Homo sapiens: one gene and its partners. The protein of the gene in region 7 interacts with the protein of the main gene of each other region in a pairwise test. Each region holds a gene or a part of one and is shown on either strand. Other genes may lie near its edges. The genes, in order: C22orf39, BRPF3, IL37, SDCCAG8, C10orf88, THAP3 and CHAT.

What was found.
Region 1: the proteins of CHAT (region 7) and C22orf39 interact in binary tests that used the Homo sapiens proteins (3 or more experiments, as listed by UniProt).
Region 2: the proteins of CHAT (region 7) and BRPF3 interact in binary tests that used the Homo sapiens proteins (3 or more experiments, as listed by UniProt).
Region 3: the proteins of CHAT (region 7) and IL37 interact in binary tests that used the Homo sapiens proteins (3 or more experiments, as listed by UniProt).
Region 4: the proteins of CHAT (region 7) and SDCCAG8 interact in binary tests that used the Homo sapiens proteins (3 or more experiments, as listed by UniProt).
Region 5: the proteins of CHAT (region 7) and C10orf88 interact in binary tests that used the Homo sapiens proteins (3 or more experiments, as listed by UniProt).
Region 6: the proteins of CHAT (region 7) and THAP3 interact in binary tests that used the Homo sapiens proteins (3 or more experiments, as listed by UniProt).

Annotation. Positions count from the first base shown.
Region 1 is NC_000022.11:19,440,386-19,442,548, reverse strand, and holds the end of C22orf39 (synaptic plasticity regulator PANTS), read left to right. Parts: 3' UTR 1-854; coding exon of another isoform or gene 855-905; 3' UTR 906-1,663; downstream 1,664-2,163. UniProt on the Homo sapiens protein: Negatively regulates long-term potentiation and modulates adult synaptic plasticity. Stabilizes the interaction of RTN4 isoform A/Nogo-A with its receptors, inhibiting clustering of postsynaptic AMPA receptors at synaptic sites.
Region 2 is NC_000006.12:36,217,244-36,220,743, reverse strand, and holds part of BRPF3 (bromodomain and PHD finger-containing protein 3), read right to left. Parts: intron 2,828-3,500; coding exon 2,734-2,827; intron 1-2,733. UniProt on the Homo sapiens protein: Scaffold subunit of various histone acetyltransferase (HAT) complexes, such as the MOZ/MORF and HBO1 complexes, which have a histone H3 acetyltransferase activity.
Region 3 is NC_000002.12:112,909,908-112,913,964, forward strand, and holds the start of IL37 (interleukin-37), read left to right. Parts: upstream 1-1,257; 5' UTR 1,258-1,341; intron 1,342-3,055; 5' UTR 3,056-3,105; coding exon 3,106-3,187; intron 3,188-3,884; coding exon 3,885-3,947; intron 3,948-4,057. UniProt on the Homo sapiens protein: Immune regulatory cytokine that acts as a suppressor of innate inflammatory and immune responses involved in curbing excessive inflammation.
Region 4 is NC_000001.11:243,413,041-243,416,540, forward strand, and holds part of SDCCAG8 (serologically defined colon cancer antigen 8), read left to right. Parts: intron 1-2,661; coding exon 2,662-2,789; intron 2,790-3,500. UniProt on the Homo sapiens protein: Plays a role in the establishment of cell polarity and epithelial lumen formation. Also plays an essential role in ciliogenesis and subsequent Hedgehog signaling pathway that requires the presence of intact primary cilia for pathway activation.
Region 5 is NC_000010.11:122,944,228-122,947,727, reverse strand, and holds part of C10orf88 (ATPase PAAT), read left to right. Parts: intron 1-3,500. UniProt on the Homo sapiens protein: ATPase that regulates mitochondrial ABC transporters ABCB7, ABCB8/MITOSUR and ABCB10. Regulates mitochondrial ferric concentration and heme biosynthesis and plays a role in the maintenance of mitochondrial homeostasis and cell survival.
Region 6 is NC_000001.11:6,627,868-6,630,964, forward strand, and holds part of THAP3 (THAP domain-containing protein 3), read left to right. Parts: intron 1-631; coding exon 632-824; intron 825-1,775; coding exon of another isoform or gene 1,776-1,857; intron 1,858-2,420; coding exon 2,421-2,486; intron 2,487-3,097. UniProt on the Homo sapiens protein: Component of a THAP1/THAP3-HCFC1-OGT complex that is required for the regulation of the transcriptional activity of RRM1.
Region 7 is NC_000010.11:49,627,537-49,631,036, forward strand, and holds part of CHAT (choline O-acetyltransferase), read left to right. Parts: intron 1-71; coding exon 72-249; intron 250-3,500. UniProt on the Homo sapiens protein: Catalyzes the reversible synthesis of acetylcholine (ACh) from acetyl CoA and choline at cholinergic synapses.

The DNA of each region.
Region 1 (2,163 bases), on a different chromosome or scaffold from region 7:
TGATGCCTGGGATTGCAGCAGCTGCCTTCAGGTTCCTGGGGCAGAGCTGGAGAGTGCAGCAAAAGCCAGGGCATGCCAGCCAGCACCCCAGTCCATGAGGGGCTTCCCCTCAGTGCAGCCACGCTCCCTGCCACCTGCTTGTTTAGCAAGGTATGCATTGTGCGGCTGCATGCTCTGTTAGGAAGCATTAAGTCCTGCCTCTGTAGTGTGACTATCATGTTTTGCCTCCTCCTTCACTACTCAAGTTCCACATCAACAGATAATCTCTCTGGACAGGATGTTCCTGCATTTGTTTCTATGTCAATTGCTTCACAACATCTGAGTGTCCACATGTTGGACAGGGTTTGAGGCTTATAAGACCACAGTTTTGAAACAGACAAGTTGTCTTCAAAGAGTTTCTGTTGTAGTTTGGGTAAAAGACAGACATTAAACATCAATAAATAGGAATTTAAAACGGTGGCTGGATGTGGTGGCTCACGGCTGTTATCCCAGCACTTTGGGAGGCTGAGGTGGGAGGATTGCTTGAGCCCAGGAGTTCGAGACCAGCCTGGGCAACGTAACAAGACCCCATCTCTACAAAAAATAAATGAGCTATGCATGGTGGCGTGCATTTGTAGTTCCAGCTACTTCGGAGGCTGAGATAGGAGGATTGTTTGAGCCCAGGAGTTTGAGGCTGCAGTGAGCCATGATTGTGCCCCACTGCACTTCAACCTGGGTGACAGAGCAATATCCTGTCTCAAAATAAATAAAAATAAAATGGTGGTAATTTCTGAAGCAGTTTGGTATTTTATGGTGGTGGTATGAAGAAAACAAATACTGTAATAAGAGCAATATCTTTCAAACTTTTTGGACAGGTGCTAAGTGTGGTGGCTCACACCTGTAATCTCAGCTACTTGGGAGGCTGAGGCAGAAGAATCACTTGAGGATAGGAGTTTGAGGTTGCAGTCAGCTATGATCGTGCCACTGCACTCCAGCCTGGGCAACAGAGCAAGACCCCATCTCTAAATAAATGTTTTAAAAATAAAAATAAATGTTTTGGATAAAACCCCATATTAATAATAAGTATTTTACATTATTATCTGGCATAGACTGTTATATATAGCATATTATTGTTGAAATACAAAACAATATGTATCCGTACTGTATGTGATATAGTGCCATTTTCAGTAACTGCTGTACACACAGCAACTCAGATGAAACTCAAGGAAATTCTTCAGAGCAAAAACAGCCAATCTTGAAAACATACATGTAGCAGGATTCCATTTATGTAACATTGGTGAAATAATGTAATTATAGAGATGGAAAACAGATTAAAGGTTACCAGGGGTTTAGGTTAGGGATGGTGAGGGGGTGGTTCATACGAGGGAGTCCTGTGGTGTTGAAAACCATCTGTCAGCCTGACTGGTGGTTACACAGGGCTATACATGAAGTTAAAATTGTGTAGAGTTAGGTACACAAAGGAGTACAGATGTAACTGGGGAAACTGAGTATGTTCTGTAGACTGTACCAATGTCAATTTCTGCGTCCTGATGCTGTGCTGTAGTGTATAAGGTGTTAACATTGGGGGAGGCTGGGGCAAGGGTACCCAGGACCTCCCTAGACAACCTCCTATGCAACCTCCTGTGAATCTATAATTACTTCAAAATAAAAAGTTGAAAACAAACTGTCGGCCATGACCTACCAAACTGATTTTACAACCTAACAGATGAAACCTACTGTTTAAAAAAAAACACTGCTATCAAGCACCTGTGCTGGACACTTACCTTGGGCGGGGAGGTGGGGAAGGCCTCAGTGTCTGAGCCCAGACCTGGGTGAAGAGGCTCAACTCCTGTCAGGCAGAGAAAGGGACCCACAAAGGCAAAGGGACCTGACACCATGTTTTGACCAGAGCGGGTGCTGTGAGCTGTGATCAGGAATCTGGGTATGCGATTCTCTGGGTGGCAGGTAGCCAAAGACCTGACCTGACCTGGTTCTAGAGACCTCTGGCTGCTGTGTGGAGAAGGGATGGGGTGGTTAGATCAGTTGGCCACTGCAATAGAACAGGCAAAAACTGACGATGACGTGGACCTCAGAGGCAGCAGTGGAGGTCATGAAAAGTGGTTCCATTCAGCATTTGTCTCAGGTGGGGCCAAAGGACTTAGAATCCTTAGGCAACATTTTTAT
Region 2 (3,500 bases), on a different chromosome or scaffold from region 7:
AAAATACCCAGTTTACATTTAGGATTTAGTTCCCATTTACCCTATAAAAATCTGCCAACATATTAGAGAAATTGAGGCCTTGTACAAATGTAAAGTGCTAGTAATTTTATCAGGAAAGCCTCTCAAAGTTCACGTCAAGATGAGAAAAAGAAAAACAAATCAAAGTTCACATCAAGAATCTGGGGAGACATCTTCAAATACAACAGAAGACAGCACAGCAAAGTAGTTAAGAAATTAAACTCTTGGAGCCTATCTGGGTTCAAAACCCAGCTCTTGTTATCAGTTCTGTAACCTTCAGCAAGTTACTTAACTTCTCCGAGGCTTACACTCCCCATGTGTTGTTGTAAGGATTAATGAACGAACACACATAAAACTCTCAGTACAGCACATACCATGCAGTCAATAAACACAGCTGTAGTTATTGTCATACGAAGGATAGTAAATTTTAATGTCTTACTTAAAGTATTACAAACTGCTAATACTGTACTATAGAATGATGAGCTCTGAGAAGGATGAGCTCAATAAAATAGGATGCAACACCAAAAATAGGTCTGTATGTTCCTGATTTGTAGAAAAAAGCACAACTGACTCAATCATGGCCTGCATTTCAGCCCTTTCTCCAAGTTACCCCAGCCTAAGCAGACAACCCAACCTACAGTTATCTTATTTACTGGTTTAACATCCATATCCATGAGAACAGACACCTTAGAAGATAATCTTCATGAGAACAGGCACCTTAGTGCTTAGAACAGTACCTGGCATACAGTAGGTGTTCAGTTATCAATATTTGAATGAGTGATCTATAGAAAGCACATGTAGCACCAACCTGCTCAGAAAATCATCAGAAAAGATAAACCAAGGGGTAAGTGAAAAAGGGAGTGTGGGGGATGGGTTAGTGACCAGTTCTTTCAAGGTTATTTCTAATTCTGGGATTATATGATTCTGGTCTAATAAATAAGGTCTTCCCTTATATACTTATTACCACAGTATGGGGGGAAAAAGAAAAACAACCCTTGCAGTTGAAGCCTTTGGATCTCCTATTTTAAACCCTGAAATATTAATACATACTTCCTCCAAGGGGCCCCAGATAAATCAAGGGCATTGCACTGGAGTTCTGCAGAAAGGCAAACACGCCACCTGAATTAGCAGGCTAACCAGAGCCTGGCCTTGCTTGCTCTTGTGGCTCATAGCTGAAAAGAATGCCCTTCATAGAAGAAGGGGCCAACAACACACCTTTCACTTTTAGTCAAGAGCAAGAAAAGGATAGTTTGATGGGTCCAATCCTACCCTGACCCCAACAAAGTGGGCTTCCAGGTACCTTATCTTTGAAGGGAGTCAGGAACTTCAACCCAGGGCCAGGCTAGAAGCATCGTGTAAGATTCTGAAATCTTTCTCTTTCCTGTGCCTGATAATTTTTTCCCATCTACTTCCCCTATATCTCTGGAGGCTGCAATAGGAAGCTAGGGCAACTCTGAGGGTTGGCGGGGGGTAGGGGAATCTCAGAGAAACCACAGCAGGGAACCAGTCCAGGCCAACGAGTAGCTGGGGACCCCCTCAGCCCTACCAGTAGTCCTACAGCCCAGGTAGACTGAATGCCTAAAAGAACACATGCCCAGTCTGCCTTGGAAGCACTTCAAACACAAATAGTCTTCTGGTGCTGCCCTGGGACCTTTCCTCCCCTACTCTGAACCTAAGACCCATTCAGCAGTCATGGGTGGGGCCATGACATTAGCCTTCAGGACAAGTCACTTTTCCTTTGTGGCAGTGAGGGTTTCTCATTTCTAAGAGTCCTCCCCGCCCTGGTGTCTTGCAGAACACAGAACACAGAGCAGGGGCTCCATAAGCTCTTGTGCCTGGAAGAAACTTTAAGGTCTGGTCTGAGAAATCCTCCCTTCAGATAAAAGAATGGGAAGAAATCCATCTCTTTTCAGCTCAAGGACAGCAGAAGAGCTTTGGGGCCTTTGTCTGAATAAAAGGCAATTCCAGGCCAGGCGCAGTGGCTCACGCCTGTAATTCCAGCACTTTGGGATGCTGCGGCGGGCAGATCACTTGAGGTCAGGAGTTCAAGACCAGTCTGGCCAACATGGTGAAACCTCATCTCTACTAAAATACAAAAATTAGCTAGGCGTGGTGGCACGTGCCTATACTCCCAGCTACTCAAGAGGCAGAGGCAGGAGAATCACTTGAACCCAGGAGGCGGAGGTTGCAGTGAGCCGAGATCGGGCCACTGCACTCCAGCCTGGGCAGCAAGCAAGACTCCGTCTCAAAAAAAAAAAAAAAAAGGCAATTCCAAATTTCCTACTTGGTCATTTCATACACCTACACCACACCTCTATAAAGAGGCTATGACGCCCCAAAAGGCAAAGAGCAAAACCAACTCTGTAATGGCTGGGTTGTCTAAATGTGTGTAGGGGCAGCAGGGGACTTTGGCTCAAATGTTAATTTCACTGAACAACAGGAGATTTAGCTTTTCTTATCCTCTAGAGTCCAAATTCAGCCCCACAAACCCTGTAAGCATCAGCACTACTCTTCCTCTCTCAGATCAGATCTGAGAGTCAAGGGTCACCCTGTTTCCTAGGAACTCCCAGAGTTACAGATAAGAGGCCTCAGGAAATAGCAGGAGTGGGGGAAGAGAGAAAAAGGTAAGCAGGAAGAGGTTCAATCTGTAGCTGAATGGAGAGTAAAAGGAGGGGTAGCAGAGCTGCTGACAAAGCTTTGGGAATGTGTTCTTACCTGCAAGCTTCAAATGCCAGTCCACCACTGAGACCCAAACTACATTCAGAGTCAGACCCGCTTTCGGTGTGTTTTCCAAAGCCGTTGGTCATGCCTGCCAAGGACACACACAGTGAGTCTGAGTGCAGAAATCCCCCTTCCCAACACATGCTACAGGGTGAGGCAGCCACCTCAGGAGGGCTCAGTGACGAGTGGAGAGGATGGCTATTCCTTTCCCTGTGAGAAATGGGTCTTGGGTGATAGAGAAGATCTGATCAAGATAAAAGTTTGGGGGGAAATATTGCTGGCTAGGGCAAGGAGCAGACACTGCAATTTCCTTCCCATCCTTCTGCTTTTTGTTTAAGGAAACCATAGCACACAGCTCACTCAGCTACTGTCATTTGGCTACACAGGGAGATACTAAGACTTCTCCTACCCTGGCTGGCTCACAAGTCCTTGGATCTGCTTCTAATTTCAAACCTCGATTATCAGGTAGCCTTCTCTGCCTTTTTCAGGAGCCCAACCACCTTGCCTCTTCAGATAAAGACTCACATAACCTATGCATCACACAGCTGGCAACAGCTAGTTTGATTCTTTGGGGGTGGTGTCAAGAGAGACTAGAGATGGATAAGGGCCCTTTGTCAACCACACCCTGAGATATCTCACAGGGCTAATCCAAAGTGAGGATGGGGGCACTCTTCAGCGGAACTAAAGCAGCCCGGAACTTCCTGGGAGGGAGAGTCAGAACCTGGGGTTCTAGGCTGGGCTCTGAAACACAGGTTCCTTTT
Region 3 (4,057 bases), on a different chromosome or scaffold from region 7:
CAGGGATTTGTATTCTAGCCATCAAGGGAATAACATTTTTCCAGGTCTTTAGACAAATAATGGAATACCTTGCAGTAATTAGATACACTATTGTAGAAAAGTATTGATGAAATGGAACGATGTTTGAGATATCATATTGAGTAGAAAAGGCAAGATACATTAAGTAGGAAATGTATCTTACAAAATAATTTGTCAGACACACTCCTATATTTGTATGTTATATAAATGCGTATGTGAAGAAAGGCTAGAGGATGAGACCACAGTCTTCGGTGAAGTTTAAGAGATGAGGCTGCAGCATGCTCAGAAAGGCCTGGGTTATAGTTCTTCCAGTAATTAAGGATGTGATCTTGGGTAAATTGTCCATCCTCTCTAAACTGCACCACCTTTTGTCTGTAAAACAGGAAGGATGGTATTTACCCCCAGGGTCATCAAAGGATTTGGTTGGAGAAAAATAAATAAATGGGCTGAGCCCAGACCTGGCACAGTGAGAGCACAGTGGTTGACTATTGTGCTGGCCTGTTGTTCCTGTGTTATTGACATGCTGCTGGTGGTGGTCCAGAAGCTATTACCTTAATTGGTTATGTGGATTTCCCCTCATACTGAGCAGCTGTGTGTGGTGTTGTAAAACATAGCCATACACAGTAACTGACAAGGGCAAATGTGATGGAAAAATGCAAGGAAGTGCAGATAAATAGCTAATGGGCTGTAGAAGGAAGCTAGTCCTTGGAGGGCTTGATCAAGGAAGGTCCTTTTGCATGTCACCTTTGAAGAAGAGGGGACATAGAAGAGGTATAGTGCATCCCGGAGTGTACCTGGAAGGGAACATGAAAAGAGGACATTTTTCTCTGGGACATGGGGACTCCACTTGCATGAACTCTGGAATTGGGGCAAAGAACCATCATGAGAACAAGGGCTTCCTTGAACCTCCCAGGCTCATTGGCTGATCTAAACCCTGTGTCCCCTCTTTCCTTCACTCTCCTCTGTTTTCTATACCTGTATTATTGGACTGGACTGGAAGCCACCTGATCTATCACAAGTACCTTGAAATGTGTTGAATAGGTGTGGCACAGTCCTTAGCAGAGTGGCACTACCCCCACAGGAATTTGTTTATACCGTTGGCATGGAAAATAGCAGGAAATGAGTGATCACTGATAACTGAGGATGCTATTTATTATTGGCCAAAGGAATACTTGTGTTGTATTTGCATAACCACTCACAAACTGTTGATTACAAATGAGTACCAGACCTAGCTCCTTCAAGTAAAGGATCCTGAGAACTGAAGGCAAACAGAGCTCCAGGAGTCCAAGACAGAGCCACAGACCACGAGGATCCCTGGCCCAGGTAGGTGGTCCTCCTGCACTGGCTTTCAAGGCCAACAGGATGGATGGGGAAGTAGAGTAGCATCTGGCCATCTAGACCCTTGCTTTTTATCCCCACTGGAAGCACATCTGAATTTCTAAATATGATCTCTGAGACCTGCCCAGAACACCTTGCTCTCAGCCCCAGTAGCAGCCTGCTCTCTCCCAGGAGGGCTTCCACTAACAAGTAGGGCATTGCTGGAGGGCCAGGCAGACACTAGCTTAGGAAATCCACCAACCCTGGAAATGCTAGTCCCTTCTCTGAAGGCTCAGAAGACTGACTTTAGAGTCTAGAAAATATTGGTCCTTGGGAACAGATTTTGAGTGCAAAGAGATGGACTTCAGATGGCCAGATGCACTGCTTCTTTAGGGAATTCTGTGAAAGCTCCCTGCATTTATCTTAATACAGGCAGCAGATTTCATGAGTACCCCCGAGGGATGGCCCCAGGTCCTCCAGCCTGTGAGCATCCTTCTGTCCTTCAGCAGCACCACAGTATCTTTATATGTCTTTGGATACCTACGTTTCTGCCAGACATCTCTTGCTCTGATGTTCTGGCTGCCAAATTCTCTGTCAAGCGCCTCCAATTTTTTGTGTCCTTTGATTTACCCCAACATGACAAAGGCAGTTGTGCTTCATGTATTCAGGGATACTGCCAAACCACAAACAGGTTAAAATCAAATAGCAGATATCCCTGTTCCTAAAGACCCATCAGCTCTACCCACCTGCTCCTGCTCACCGTCCTTATTGTTGAGTCCTGAAGCCCTTCCTTGTCATTTTTATTTTTTGCATGAACAATTTAGTTCCCTTTGTCTCACTCCTAAACCTTTCTCAAAGGATTGGATTTGTACACAAACTGCCTATCTCTGCAATCTTAGAAGTGATATGATTCTGAACAAATCACTTAACTTTTGATTTTTTATCGGTAAGATGGGAATACCAATTTTTGCTCCACTTCTGTCCTATGTTGGCCTGGGCTGATGTTGAAAGCTCTCGGTCAACTGAGATAGGGTGTGCAGAATTTATATATATAAATATATCTCCTCCAACCCCTCCCAATGAAGCAAGTCACGTGAGTCAATCCTACCCTAAGATATTAGGGATTGAGCCTCCTGGGACATTTGGTGGCTTAGGTTTTCATGAAAAGAGGTTGCAGAGCAACTGCTTTTTGTTAGGCAAAGATTAGGCTACTGCAGAGACTCAGCAAACTTCTATAGAAGGTGTCAGATGGTAAGTATTTTAGGCTTTGCTTGCCAGATGATCTCTCAACTAGTTAACCATGCTATTGTAGCCTCGAAGCAGCCAGAGACAATATGTAAACAAGAGCATGGCTGTGTTTCAATAAAACTTTATTTAAAAAAACAGTCAGGGACCGGATTTGGCCAAAGGCCATAGTGTGCCAGCCCCAAGACTAGAGCAATGCACTTTTAACTTTTTTATTTTATTTTTGTAAAATGCCAAGATCCACAAAAATGCTATTGCACCCCGTGTGTTAGCACTGTGACTCAAGGTTTGGGAAATTCTGCTTTGAAGGCGTGATAGACAGGAGAGCATGGTCTGGCCCCTTGGTGCCTTTCTGGTTGCAGCGAGCATTTCAAACTACAGAGCAAGGCCAGTGGTCTGTTCAGCACTAGAGACATGCAGCAAGGTGTCCTGGGGTGAGAAGATGCCATAACTGGTCCCCTTTCTATCTCCTTAGGTCTTGGACTTCATTCCATTTTCTGTTGAGTAATAAACTCAACGTTGAAAATGTCCTTTGTGGGGGAGAACTCAGGAGTGAAAATGGGCTCTGAGGACTGGGAAAAAGATGAACCCCAGTGCTGCTTAGAAGGTAAGGTTCTTGTAGAAATCTACCTCAGGGCCAAAGTGTAATTCCTAGAGCAGAACTTTGCTAGGTGCTGTGCACAGACCCAGTTGTTTCCTGCTGACTTGCACAGTAAGTGAGCTTTCAAATTTCCCTGGACAAATAACTAGACAAGAGAAATTCTGGAAGGGAAAAGGAAGCTTTGCTTCAGTGTCCAGGCACATCAGGTAGTAGATAAAAGGATCGTCCTCACCTACAGATTTGGGGCTTTAGCATCCTGTTTGCCAACTGGATGGTTGCATATGCTTCAAAATGCACCTCTTCCCTCCCAACATTCCCAAGTGGAAGAGAAGCCTCCGATGAGAAGCAGCTCTCTAAGGCTGGGCTGAACAAATGACCCAGGCACAGGGCATCTGAGTATTCCATGAGGAACACATTTGGGTGTTGCCCATGGGGGACAATAGGAGGAGGCTTTTGACCCAAATGATTGTCTACTGAGGTGTGACGGGAGAGGCCTGTGACATGCCAGAGGCCAAACCCGTGATCCAGTTCATCTCTATTCTATGTTTCTGAAGAGGGAAGCTATGATTTAATGTCATTACTATCATGCTGCTCTAGTATTTCTCAGCACATACACAGAAGAGGGAATTAAATGGTCTTTGATACCCCTAAATCCTTGGAAAATCCGAATTGCATATGCTAACCTCACTGCGTCTGACTGCAGACCCGGCTGGAAGCCCCCTGGAACCAGGCCCAAGCCTCCCCACCATGAATTTTGTTCACACAAGTAAGGCCTCGGGGTGAGGTGATGGGGGTGGCTGAGGTGCGAGGGTGGGGATGGGGGATGGAGCCATTGGGTCCTCTTACAGGGTGGGAGAATTGTAGAATGGGGACACC
Region 4 (3,500 bases), on a different chromosome or scaffold from region 7:
TAATGTATAGTTTCCCAAATAGAGGGAAATTTGGGGAAGGATTCGAGAAACATCAGTTGATGTGTAACTCAACATTTGTTGGTAGAAGTCTTTTAAATTGTTTTATTTTATAAAAAGGACTTCAATTATGACAGTAGTTCTTTTCTATAGTCAATTTATTTTTTATTTTTATTTATCTATTTTGAGACAGAATCTCACTCTATCACTCAGGCTGGAGTTCAGTGGCACAATCTCTGCTCGCTGCATCCTCTACCTCTCAGGTTGAAGTGATTCTGATGCCTCAGCCTCCCAAGTAGCTGGGATTACAGGCATGCACCACCACGCCCAGCTAATTTGTGTATTTTTAGTAGAGATGGGGTTTTGCCTTGTTGGCCATGCTGATCTCTAACTCCTGGCCTTAAGTGATCTGCCCACCTTGGCCTCCCAAAGTGCTGGGATTACAGATGTGAGCCACCGTGCCTGACCTATAGTCAATTTAGAATATCAGTAATTAGGCAGCTTATTCTAAAGAATGATGGTGAGATTGACAACCCCTTTACATTGGGGAACTGTAAGTACCAGTTTGTGATGGGTAGTTTCAGTTGTGACTGTTATCTTGGTATAATTATTAATAGTGCCCCTTTCACTTTCAGATGGGTATTGGTGTTGGAGAATGCATTTATGTCACCCAATTGTTAGGGGTTGCAGAGCCCCAGATTTCTATCTCTGGCTCCTGCCCCGGCAGGGGGTCTGACTTGGGGATGGTCTGACAGGGCTTTTTGTTTTTTTAGCTGACTCCTTTAGCAGCACGGTCTCCAGCTGGCAGAGCCATTAGAACCATTCTCTTCTAAGCACCTTTTTCTAACACGTCTGAAAAGTTTTTGCCTCCTCTCGTAAGACTTAAGCAGATTCTCCAGCTACACGTTAAGATAGCAGCCTTCCTTTCCCCTATGACAAGAGTATAACAACATCCAATCATGAAATATTCACCACCCACTTCCTGTGTGCCAAGCACTGAGGCTGGGCTGAGGGTATAGAGAGATAAAGATGACAAACGAAGCAGACATGTTAAACAATAACTAAAGTGTGATAAATACTATCTTTGTACGATGTACACAACATATATTGAGGTCATTGAGGGAAGAATAGTTAATTCAGGAGAGAGGAAGGAGAGGGGAAGAATTTTGAGTTAGGCCTGAAGCGGGTAGTTGTATGTATACATCTTACAGGGGGATTGAGTGGGCAGGTGGAGGGGCTTTCCAGGAAGAGGAAGAGACATGTGCAGTGATCCATGGCCAGAAAATACATGGTGTGACTGGGGAGGCAAAAAGTAGCCTAGTCTGACTATCCATTTGTTGTATATACTGGTTTGGAACCGAGTGCGACGCAAGACCTTGGACCACATCCCGGGGGGAGGTGTTGTTATTAGAAGTACCAGACAGGACCTTATTTCACATTTAGCATGGACCCCCGATGATTCCATTTGAGTGAGGTGTGGGTGTATTTTCATTCCAGAATTTTATACTACAACATGACCACATGCATTGACCAATTTTAATACAGGCTTTCCTTATGTTGCTTTATAATTAGAAGCCAGTGAATTGAAGTTCCACAGCGGTACATAGACTAGTAGTGATAGCTTTATGGAATTGTTTATTTTTAGTTTGGCAAAGGCTAAGCAGTAAATATCTCAATTAGTAAACTAAAGCAGCATGGATGAGAAATGCCCGCAAGGAGATCAGGAGTTAGAAATAACTAAGTCAGTTAATTGAAGGAAACCCTAATATCACTTACCCATATTTAGAGTTTGAAGAACCATTCTAATATGTGTGTGTGTGTGTGTGTGTGTGTGTGTGCACATGTACATGCACACACACACTGTCAGTATCCACAGTGCTGCCAGCATTGAGGTCCTTTGCATTCCCCAGGTTCTAATTGTTTAGGAAGTTTCTCTCTTTGGAGCCACTGTGCTTGGTTATTGACCCAGTGGGATAGGTCAGTGTCCTATCACAGTACGATGGGTTGTTGTCTGACTACAGAAGCTTTTCATCCTGCAATTTCTTTCAATGTGACCCACGAGGGATTTTATTATGAAGTGCTGGGGGAAGTTATTCGTATTCATATTTGTATTCATATTCACATTATATGGCCTGATGTGTGAAGATATTTAGTGAAAACATGAATGTGGCACTGCAGAATCATTTACTCGCCTCTAGATAGAGGCTCCTGCATTATATTTAAGATTCCATTTTAAGTTTAGAGTGAAAACAGAGGTGGTCTACAAAGCTTAGTTTTAAGAATTTAAGTTTTGTTCCTAGAGTTCCAGTATCTCTGGGAAAGATTGACCACTCAGAAGATGAAACATTCATTGATAGTGTAAAACATTAAGAATATTAGAGAAAAAAGTTTTGTGTTTTAAAGTTACAAAATACCATTATTTAGTTGTTATGATGTTTTGACACTGCACACTTTAGTCCATTTGGATTCATGGCACGTATTTAACACTGTATGGAAGGTTGTTTGGATCTTCCCCCTAAAGTGGGGGAGGGTCATTAGAAAGGTCCTTGTCTTCTTATGCTTAACAATTTACTACGTATCAGCTCTCTCTGGTCTATAGGGGACATGATGGGGGTTTGTGCATCTGCAGATTAAATTTCTGTATGTCTCCTCTCTGTTTTGCAGACAGGAAAAAGATAGCATTCAGCAGAGCTTTAGCAAGGAAGCAAAGGCCCAAGCCCTTCAGGCCCAGCAAAGAGAGCAGGAGCTGACACAGAAGATACAGCAAATGGAGGCCCAGCATGACAAAACTGGTAGGTGGTAGGGAAAGATTAGAGCCTGGGCACTAGCTCACAAGTCAGGCCCACGCCTTACTGTGAAATGACATCAGGAACACCTGTAACCTTTGGCTGGCCGAAGGGAGCAGATGCTAACTACACCGGAGATTCCGAATTACATATTAGTTAGCGTTTAAAAGAGAAAATGGAAAGTATTGCCCACTGTCTGTTGATTTCAGAGTGCTGCTCTCACATCTGTTGCACCATCTGGATTATGAGTTTATTTACCTGTGTTCAAGAAACGTAAAGCTGAGAGAGACCACAACAAAGTAGAAAAACAAAGGGCTTGTTTTTGGCTGGGTTTTCAGGCACACATGTTATATAAAGAAAATAGCATCAGAAGCTCTGCGGGAAATGCTCTGAGCTTACAGTTAGAGTCTCCTGAATAGCATTGAACAGTTCCCACAGTACACACATTATAGCTACTCTAAAAGCCTAATGAGTTTGCTTCAGCATCCAAACTGGAGAAAAGCTTTAGCCATTAATCGGTTCTTAATTCACTGTCGCAGCTGGATGTAATTCAGTGGCTCCAAATTGATATGTTCCTTTATTTAATCTTTGCAGCTTCGAACATTTTTAGCATTTGTATGATTTCCCCACCTCCCCCAACCCAATCTAGAGTGATGTTTAATCCTTTGCATTCTTCAAGTTCTCACAACTGCTGTTAAAATTCACTAATACAAGGCA
Region 5 (3,500 bases), about 73 Mb from region 7:
AAGGAATTTAATTTTGGGAACATTGACTTTTAGCTGTGAATAAGACATTCCCTGGAAGGATGTTGCAAACATCTGGAAACAGAGGATTAGGAGAAATGGAATGAACCTTCAGTGGCTGGAAGGGAAGTTTAGGGGTGTACCCACAGTAGCTGACGGAGGGTGGTGAAGGGAGAGGAAAAAGGAACCAGAAACATAGAAGGCAGCAGTGTGATAGAGTAGCAAGAGAAACGATTTGATGTCAGGTAAAGTGACTTCAAACTCTTGTCCTGCCTCTTCTTAGTTCTGCATCCTATGGCAAGTTAATTAATATTTTTTTCAATATGAATTCCTCATGTACAAAATCTAAATGATAACACTGTAAGGATCACAGAATTGATGTGAAAATTTAAAATAAGTAATGCAAGTAAAGAACTCCTTGTAGATGTTGTGTGGTTCACAAATATTAATGTAGTACCAGTATTATAATATGGGCTGAGTTAAGAGAACCAGGAGAGCTGAAGATTATGGAAACCACAGAAAGAAGAATTTCAAAAAAGATGGAAATGTATACTTTTCTTCCTCCCACACCATGTTCTCACCTGGATACCTCAGGAGATTCCTAACTGGCCCACCTGTCCTGCTACAATCTGTTTTCCACAATGTACCGAGAATGACCTCAAAGGATAATTGGATCTCATCCTTCTCCTGTGCAAAGCCCCCTGACTGCTTGCCTCCCTTTGTACTTAGAATTAATCCTGATTCCTTACCTTAATCTCTAAAATGTAGGCCCTGCTTGCCTTCTCAACCTCATCTCCTGCCATGTTTCCTTGGGCAGCTTGCTCCAGACATTCTGATATGTGTATTCCGTAAATATCTAGATATGTTCCCACCTCCAGACCTTTGCACTCATAACTGTTCTCTGTGGCCAGAACTCCCTCCCTGTGATACTTCTGTATCTGCATTTTTCTTATTCAGATCTCATTTTAATGTTACATCTTTAATGACACCTTTCTTAGCCAACCAGTGTAAAGTAGCATGTACCTCCAAATCCGTATCAGTTTCATCAGTGCCCTTTTGACCACTTTGTTGTTGTTTTTGTATTGGTTGCATGTTTATCTCACTAAAAGACAAGCTTCATGTAAACAAGACTTATCTGTCTTGTTTATGGCTCCAAGTATTATACACAGTCATGCATCAATTCACAGTGGGGATATGTTCTGAGAACAAAGGTGATTAGGGGATTTCATGGTTATGAAACCATCATGGTATGTACTTGCAGAATCCTAGATCATATAGCCTACTACGTACCTAGGTTACGAACCTGTATAGCATGTTACTTTACAGAATACTCTAGGCAGTTATAATGGTAAGGATTTGTGTATCTAAACATAGAAGAGGTACTGTAAAAATATAGTATACAAGATGAAAAATGGCACGCCTGTATAGGGCACTTACCATGAACTGAACTTGCAGGACTAGAAGTTACTCTAGGTAAGTCAGTAACTGAATATGAAGGCCTAGAACATTACTGTACACTACTGTAGACTTTATAAACACTGCACATTTAGGCTATGCTAAATTTCTTTAAACATTTTTTATTTTTCAATAATAAATTAAGCTTAGCTTATTGTAACTTTTTTTTTTTTATTTTTTGCGACAGAGTCTTCCTCTGTCATCTGGGCTGGAGTGCAGTGGTATGATCTCAGCTCACTGCAACCTCTGCCTCCTGGGTTCAAGCAATTCTCCTACCTCAGGCCCCTGAGTAGCTGGATTACAGGCGCATGCCACCACACCAGACTAATTTTTTTATTTTTAGTAGATACGGTGTTTCACCATGTTGGCCAGGCTGGTCTCGAACTCCAGGTTCTCAGGTGATCACCTGCCTTGGCCTCCCAAAGTACTGGGTGGGATTACAGGCGTGAACCACCATGCCCAGCCTATCGTAACTTTTTAACTTTATATACTTAAATTTTAAAAAACTTTTTGACTCTTTTGTAGTAAAGAGCTTAAAACACAAACTCATTGTATAGCTGTACAAATATATTTGGTTTCTTTATATCCTTTTTCTATTAAGCTTTTTTTGTATTTAATTTTTTTTTAAGTTTTAAACTTTTTTGCTTAAAACAAAGACACAAACATACACATTACCCTAGGCCTACAGAGGGTCAGGATCATAAGTATCACTGTCTCCCACCTCCATATCTTGTCCCACTGGAAGGTCTTCAGGGACAGTAATACCCATGGAGCTGTCATCTTGTATAATAATAATGCCTTCTTCTGGAAGACCTCCTGAAGGACCTGCCTGAGGTGGTTTTACAGTTAACTTTTAAAACATATAAGCAGAAGGAATATACTTTAAGACTAAAAATATGGTATAGTAAATACATAAACCAGCAACATAGTCATTGATTATTATTACTAAGTAGTATACAGTATACATAATTGTACATGCTATACTTTTATATGACTGGCAGTGTGCAATCGGTTGGTTTACACCAACATTGCCACAAACATGTGAGTAATGTGTTACTATGATACCACTTGGGGACTGGAATTTTTTAGCTCCATTGTAATCTTATGGGACCACTGTCATATGTGGGTCCATTGTGGACCAAAACATTGTAATGTGACACATACATATATCTATCTATACATACATATATATATACGTATATATACATGCATATATCTATATACATATATATATACACATATATACACGCATATATCTATATACATATATATATATACACATATATATACACACACACCTATTGGATTGATCAGCTATTTCTTGGAGATCCTCAGGGAGTAAGTTTGAATAGTGATGAGATGTAAACCAAATTGTGAGGGATTAGGTAGTAACTGGGTATTTGGGATGTGGAGTTACTAAGTGCACACAGGTTTTTTTTTTTCAAGTTTAGAGATAAAGAGGAAATTAGATACTTGTGTAAAGGAATATTGAAGATAAATAAGGAATTTGAAAAGCTTGTGAGATTTGAGCTTTATTAAGAATTTATTTAGGGCAGTGTATTTTTTCAAGTACACTCCATTGAACACCTGTGTCAGAATCCTTTGGAAGGTCTTCAAAATGCAGATTCCTGGCCCTCACTATCTACTCAATCCCAGAGGGTGGGGTCCAGGAATCAGTGTTTTAAACAGTCATGTCTAAGTGAGTTTTATGTACATTGTGATTTGATAATAACTCTTTTTTTTAATTATTATTATACTTTAAGTTTTAGGGTACATGTGCACAATGTGCAGGTTTGTTACATATGTATACATGTGCCATGCTGGTGCGCTGCACCCACTAACTCGTTATCTAGCATTAGGTATATCTCCCAATGCTATCCCTCCCCCCTCCCCCCACCCCACAACAGTCCCCAGAGTGTGATGTTCCCCTTCCTGTGTCCATGTGTTCTCATTGTTCAATTCCCACCTATGAGTGAGAATATGCGGTGTTTGGTTTTTTGTTCTTGTGAGAGTTTACTGAGAATGATGGTTTCCAATTTCATCCATGT
Region 6 (3,097 bases), on a different chromosome or scaffold from region 7:
TCTCACCTCTGTCTAGAGCCTCCAGGGACTCCCCAGCTGCTCAGGGCCCTGCGTCATGCAGTCCCCACTCCCTCTCGCTGTCTCAGCTGGACCTGCGTGAGTGGCCGTTCCTGCTGTCCCTTCTGAAGCCTGCGTCGCTTGTGCTGCCACTTCCTGCGGTCTGTGCTCAAACATCACCCCTTCAGCTGCCTCTCCTCACCACCCCAGGGCTTCCCTCTGTCTGTTCTCTGGAGCAGCTGTCATCCCCAGAAGACACCGTCCACATCTGTGTGGCTCATCACTGTGCCCCCGCTCCAGAATATCAGCTCTTGGGGGCCAGGACTGTCTCATTACCCCCCATCCCTAGCACGAAGAACAGGGCCCGGCTCCTGGTAGGCTCCTGGCAAATGTAGCATCGGAAGCAGCTCACTTGGGCTCTCTGGCCATGCTCGTGGTCTCGGGTTTCCTATTAAGAGTGCTTTAACAGCTGTGACAGAAGCTTCCAGAAATTAGATGTGATTTAATAAACCGAGAGGACTGAATGTCCACAGCTGTCCAGGGAAGTACTCTGTAGTGATGTGAAAATTCCGAATGACTCTGAGGCGCTGGGTCCAGCCTTGCTGGGCCTCACACCCCGTGCCTCTGCCCTTAGGTTTCCGTTCAGCCGCCCGGAGCTGCTGAAGGAATGGGTGCTGAACATCGGCCGGGGCAACTTCAAGCCCAAGCAGCACACGGTCATCTGCTCCGAGCACTTCCGGCCAGAGTGCTTCAGCGCCTTTGGAAACCGCAAGAACCTAAAGCACAATGCCGTGCCCACGGTGTTCGCCTTTCAGGACCCCACACAGGTAGGAGGGCACTGCACCTTCCGTCTGGTCACATCCAGCCTGCGTTGTTTACCAGCAGCTGGGGGCAGTGGGGGTGGCGGCATGTGTGGGAAAAGCCAAGGCCAAGAACTCCAGTGACAACAGCACTGTCACGCCTCTGGGGTCCACAGCCCTGTGGCCCTGCTGGCCATGACCTCGGCTTTAAGAGAAGTCATAAATTAAAGGCATTTTAAAAATGAATTATTCTATGGCTGGGTGCGGTGGCTCACGTCTGTAATCCCAGCACTTTGGGAGGCAGAGGTGGGTGGATCACCTGAGGTCAGGAATTCGATACCAGCCCAGCCAACATGTTGAAACCCCATTTCTACTAAAAATACAAAAATCAGCTGGGTGTGTTGGTGGGCACCTGTAATCCCAGCTACTTGGGAGGCTGAAGCAGGAGAATCTCTTGAACCGGGAGGCAGAGGTTGCAGTGAGCCAAGCTTGCCTTGGTGGAGGTGGGATGTGTGGGCCTGGCTCAGGAGAGGGCTCACAAAGAGTTGGATGCTGAAGCCTTGAGATCGCATGATAGGCCACAGGGGCACCCACGTGGAGTGGGCAGGCAGGGCAGTGGCGGGACAAGCCACAGGCCAGCAGCTCCCTGCATTGGTGGATTTATGGGGAGAGGAAAGGGATCCGTGAGTGGAGAGTGGAGCCGATGGGAAGAACAAAGCGGCCACGTAGCAAACACGCCCAGAGCGGCCGCCTGGGAGCCCCTGCCCCATCTGTCCTCCCCAGCACCCTTCCCAGATAGCCTCATGCAGTCTGCCTGAACCTCTTCAGGTTGGCAGTCCCTTCCTTCAGGAAGCCCTTCTGGACCCTCAAACCCCCTCTTGCCTCCGACCCCTTCCTGCCCCTCAGTCTTCCTGGCCCCTGTGGCCCCTGCTGTCCTTCCTGTTTCCCTCATTGGTTTTGTCTTCTCCCCTGGAACAGAATCTCCATGAGGGCAGGGGCTGCCTTCCCTGCTTCAGGCCCCACACCCAGGACGCTGCCTGGCACAGCCCAGGTGCTCGGGGTATGTGTCCATAGATGAACACTTTAATCACCTTCACGTATTTGTGATAACGTTTGTCCTGGAAAGATGACACTTGAGCCACTGGGAGTGGGGACGTTTGTCACTGTAGCCCTCGGTGCTTCCAGTGCCTGGTTGGTGGGGAGAAGCTGGGTACGGCCTCTGCCAGCTCTGCTTTGTGGGCCCCACCCCAGTGTGGCCCAGGGGCTGCAGGTTCTGGGTCAGTGGCACCTCGAGTGGTGAGCTGCGCTTCTGCTGCTTGCTGGCGGTCATGGGGCCAGGTGCCAGGCCCTGGGGTGACACATAGGAAGTAGATGGGTCCCTAGCTCTACAGGGACCTATTCAGGGCACTCTGACCATGATTTGAGGACATCTTTGGAGAAAGAGAAGCGCACCAAGCGGGCAGTGTGAGTTGGGCTGAGCTTCAGGTCAGTTTCATTTAGCAGCTGTTCGTTGACTGGGGCATGCAGTGGGCCGAGCAGCGGGGACAAGCATGATGCCCGAGGCCTGCCCCGAGCTCTGAGGGTTCTTGGGGTCTGCATCCACTCTGTGTGTGTCTCTTGTAGCAGGTGAGGGAGAACACAGACCCTGCCAGTGAGAGAGGAAATGCCAGCTCTTCTCAGAAAGAAAAGGTGAGTGCACCGGGCCAGGTACTTGAATGTTTAAATTATGCTGTGGGTTGAGACAGGGAGGTGGGATTTTCCCAGCAAGGCCGGCCCGCAGGGCTGTCGCCTTTCCTCATATGCCAGTTTGGATTCCCGGTTTTTCTGGAGGGAAGGCCCAAGCCTCTCAGCTTCCTTCTTTTCAATATCAAAGAATCTCAGTTGCTAGTAGGGATCGTGCCTGATTCCCTTTTTCTTTTCTTTTTTTTGAGACTGAGTCTCGCTCTGTCACCCAGTCTGGAGTGCAGTGGCATGATCTCGGCGCACTGCAACCTCTTCCAGGTTCAAGTGATTCTCTTGCCTCAGCCTCCCGAGTAGCTGGGATTACAGATGCCCGCTACCACGCCCGGCTAATTTTTGTGTTTTGAAATAGAGACGGGGTTTTACCACGTTGGCCAGGCTGGTCTCGAACTCCTGACCTCAGGTGATCCACCCACCTCTGCCTCACAAAGTGCTGGGATTATAGGTGTGAGCCACCGCGCCTGGGCCCCCACTTTTTTTTTTTTGTAGAGATAGCATCTTGCTATTTTACTCAGGCTGGTCTCAAACTACCGGGCTCAAGCCATCCTCCCACCTCAGTC
Region 7 (3,500 bases):
TGAAGGCTGAGTGAAGGCCTGGTGCCACGGGCCACCCAACAAGTGACATGTTTGACCTGTTTACCCCACAGTTCTTTGTCTTGGATGTTGTCATTAATTTCCGCCGTCTCAGTGAGGGGGATCTGTTCACTCAGTTGAGAAAGATAGTCAAAATGGCTTCCAACGAGGACGAGCGTTTGCCTCCAATTGGCCTGCTGACGTCTGACGGGAGGAGCGAGTGGGCCGAGGCCAGGACGGTCCTCGTGAAAGGTCAGCCGCAGTGCCCAGCACATCTCCATGCCCATCTCATGCTCGTGCCCATTGGCTTTCCCTCCTCTAGGGTTGGGCCAGGGCCTCATCCCCATCAGCCATAGTGTGGGAGCTCAGGGCCCACAGCATGCCCTGCGGCCAGCCACAGTGCCTTGCCACCGAAGCCACCTTTTGTGCCCTCGTGTTCCATCTGACAGTATCTGGCTTTCTTGGTGGGACTAACTAGTGCTGGAATTGGGGATGTCTGAGAATACTGGGCGGGGCGGGGGAGTTAGCTGGAGGAAGGCTGGCTGCAAGTGAGCAGGTGTGTTTTCCTGGTGGGTGGCGCTCACTGATAGTGGCTGGGGGAGTCGCTGAATGGGGGTGTGGGATGGAGCCTGCCTCTGGGAAAGTGGTTCACCACCTCTTTCACCTGATCTCTCCATCCTGGGACTCTTCATCTTCAAGCTGTCCCTTATCTTGTGGCACTGTTCTGATGAAAGTCTCCAAGCATTCCCATAAGAAAGCCAGGAATATTCTTGAAAATTTTTCATCACCCTTCTGGAAACTACTTTCAAATCCAAAGCTGGTCCTATTCCAGGAGCTGATGGAATGCTCTCCTTCCTTGCCCATGTTAGAGACACTGGATGAGAAGCAAGACTTCTGTGAGTCTTTATTTACCCCTCAGAATTTTACTGGGTCAGGCAATCTATTCAGACTCTCCACATCTGTTACTGAGGGCCCTGGGCTTGGCTCAGGGAGTATGGGAGACAAAGGAGTTGAGGCCTCTACCCAAGAGCAGCCCCATGATGGGAACAGGAAGAGGGGGCATGGGGAGGAGACTCACATCCAGGTGCATGCAGTGCTGACCCACTTCAGACAGGCGTCAAAAACGTGCTCCAGGACTTCAGAGAGGGGACGGAGCCCTTCCGAGTGGGATTGTGAAAGGCTCTGTTAGAAGAGGTGGGAATGGAACAAAGCCCCATGGCATGAGTGAGAAAGGCTGGAGGGAAGGATGGTACCCAGGCAGGCAGACCAACCCTGGGCAAAGCCCGAGGCCCAGCAGGGACACACCCACCTTACCCCCAGGGTGAGGAGGAGAATAGCTGCCCAGCAAAGGTGGCCTGAGCCGGATGTACTGGGCCTATTTTTTCTAACAGCCACTTGCATTTTCTGGTCTCTCTCTAGAAGGGTCTTCCCCCAGATCCAGCTGGCTCCTTGCCGCACGCAGAGCTCAGCCCAGGTGTCCGGCCTCAGGCCTGCCTTGGGCATCCTTCCCGCACACTCTGTCACTGTGGCCCGTTCGCTTACCTTGACTCTGTTGCTCACTCTCTGAGGACAACTTTGCATTTGTTTGATAAATGCTGATTATCTGCCTTTCCCCCCACCTCCTACCCACTGCCTATAAGGTCAGAAGGACAGGGGCCTTGTCTGTTTGGTTTAATTTCTGAGAAACACAGTCTGGGCCCAGTTACATTTATTAAATAAAAGAGTGAAGGGTGATTAAAAATGCCAGGCCCCAGACTTATTCCCCGACTTACCAATTAATTATTCTTTCATCCAATTATTGGGCACCTCCTGAATGCTGTCATAAATAGGGGGCTGCAGGAGCCAAAGAGGGGTGTGAGAGCTGACTGCCCTCCCGGACCTAACCTCGTGCTGGAGAATTAATAACTTAGCATTCCGCAGTGAGTTAATTCCCTCGGGAGACCATGGTGTAATCAAATCCCACTCTTCTCCCCTTCAGGGACAGAGACAGGCATCAAAATAATCGCCTCTGCCTCCAGCATAGTTTCCACTTTATTAGCAGGCCAGGCCCAAGACACGCCCTTCAGGGCTGGCTGGATTGCCCCAAGGTCTGAGCACTTGGGCTGCAGATCAGAATTGATTTGTTAATGGCACTTGATCTGGCTTTCTGAATGGAAGTGCTGTTTCTGAGGGAAATGCGACAGAAAGGAGGGGACACATGCGCCTCCCCTTGGGTAATCCGATTAATCCAGTTAGCGCCAACTGTGTCATCTACACAACAGGAAACTGATCCTTCACAGATCCCCCCTCCCCAGAGCAGCCCTGCCTATGGAACAGAAACAGAGAGACCATTTACAAAATGATTTCGGTTTCCCAGTGAAAGAGTATGGCAGCTTGGGACAGGGTTGAGAGTGAAGATGGAGAGACCAGTGACGTCAAGGCCATTGAAAGCGAGAACAATTCCTGGGCTTTTTATCCGAGCCGTGAGTGGATGTTAGTGCCATTTAGTAAGATGGGAAACAGGGTCGGGGAGTGGGTACAGGATGGAGAAATCATTGCCACACATGTTGGGTTAGAGGTGCTTGGGTCATCTGGGTGGAGACGTCAAGCTTAATATATATGTTTGGAGCCCAAGGGAGAGGTCAGTACAGAGCAATAAATTTGAGGGACATCAGCGCATAAATGATCCTTAAAGTCATGGACCTGGGTGAGATAATCTAGAAACAGAAGAACAGGGAGCCTGGAGGTCAGGTAGAGAAGGATGCAAAGGGGATTGAGAAAGAGTAGCCCATGAAGTAAAGGAAAGCCAGAAGAGTCACAAAGATTCAAGACAGAGGGAACGGCCAGCCACATGGAATGCTGTGGAGAGCTGGAGGAGGAACAGGACACAGGGGACCCGGCTTGGCAACCCTGAAGTTGTCACTGGGCTTACTGAGGGTCAGACTGGAGTAGCAGGAGAACAAATGCTTGCACACTGACAGAAGTGATCCAACAGCAGAAAGAAATTGTCGATGAGGCAGTCAGTGAGTTGAACCAGTGAGTATGGTCGACTTTTTCTCAGACATTTTGACACTAAAAGGAGCAGAAAAATGAGGGAGTTGCTAAAAGAGGATGAGGGTCAAGGGAGGTGTTTTTAGGAGGAGAGACAAATGTATGGAAGGAATTTAGTAAAAGAAATTGATGAAGAGATAGGAGATGAATGGAGGGGTGGAATTCTTGCAAAGGCAAAAGGAGATAGAACTCAGAAAATAAGAGGCCTTTGGTTGGTACAGGGTGAAGTGGAAAGCTTGGGCCTGAGGCAGCAGAGGTAGGAGCATGCAGAGGCTCCCAACTGGTACCTCCTGGTCTCAGATCACAACCTTGAGATAAGAGGCGGGCAGTTGGATGTTGAAGATGAAATCGACTGTGTGAAATAGCCTCCTGGAAAGTGGGAAAGAAGACTTGAAAAACTTGATAAGATTTATGGACTGTGTTGAGCTCATATATGAAGGTTCAAAGTGATACATTTTAGGAGAGGCTAATTA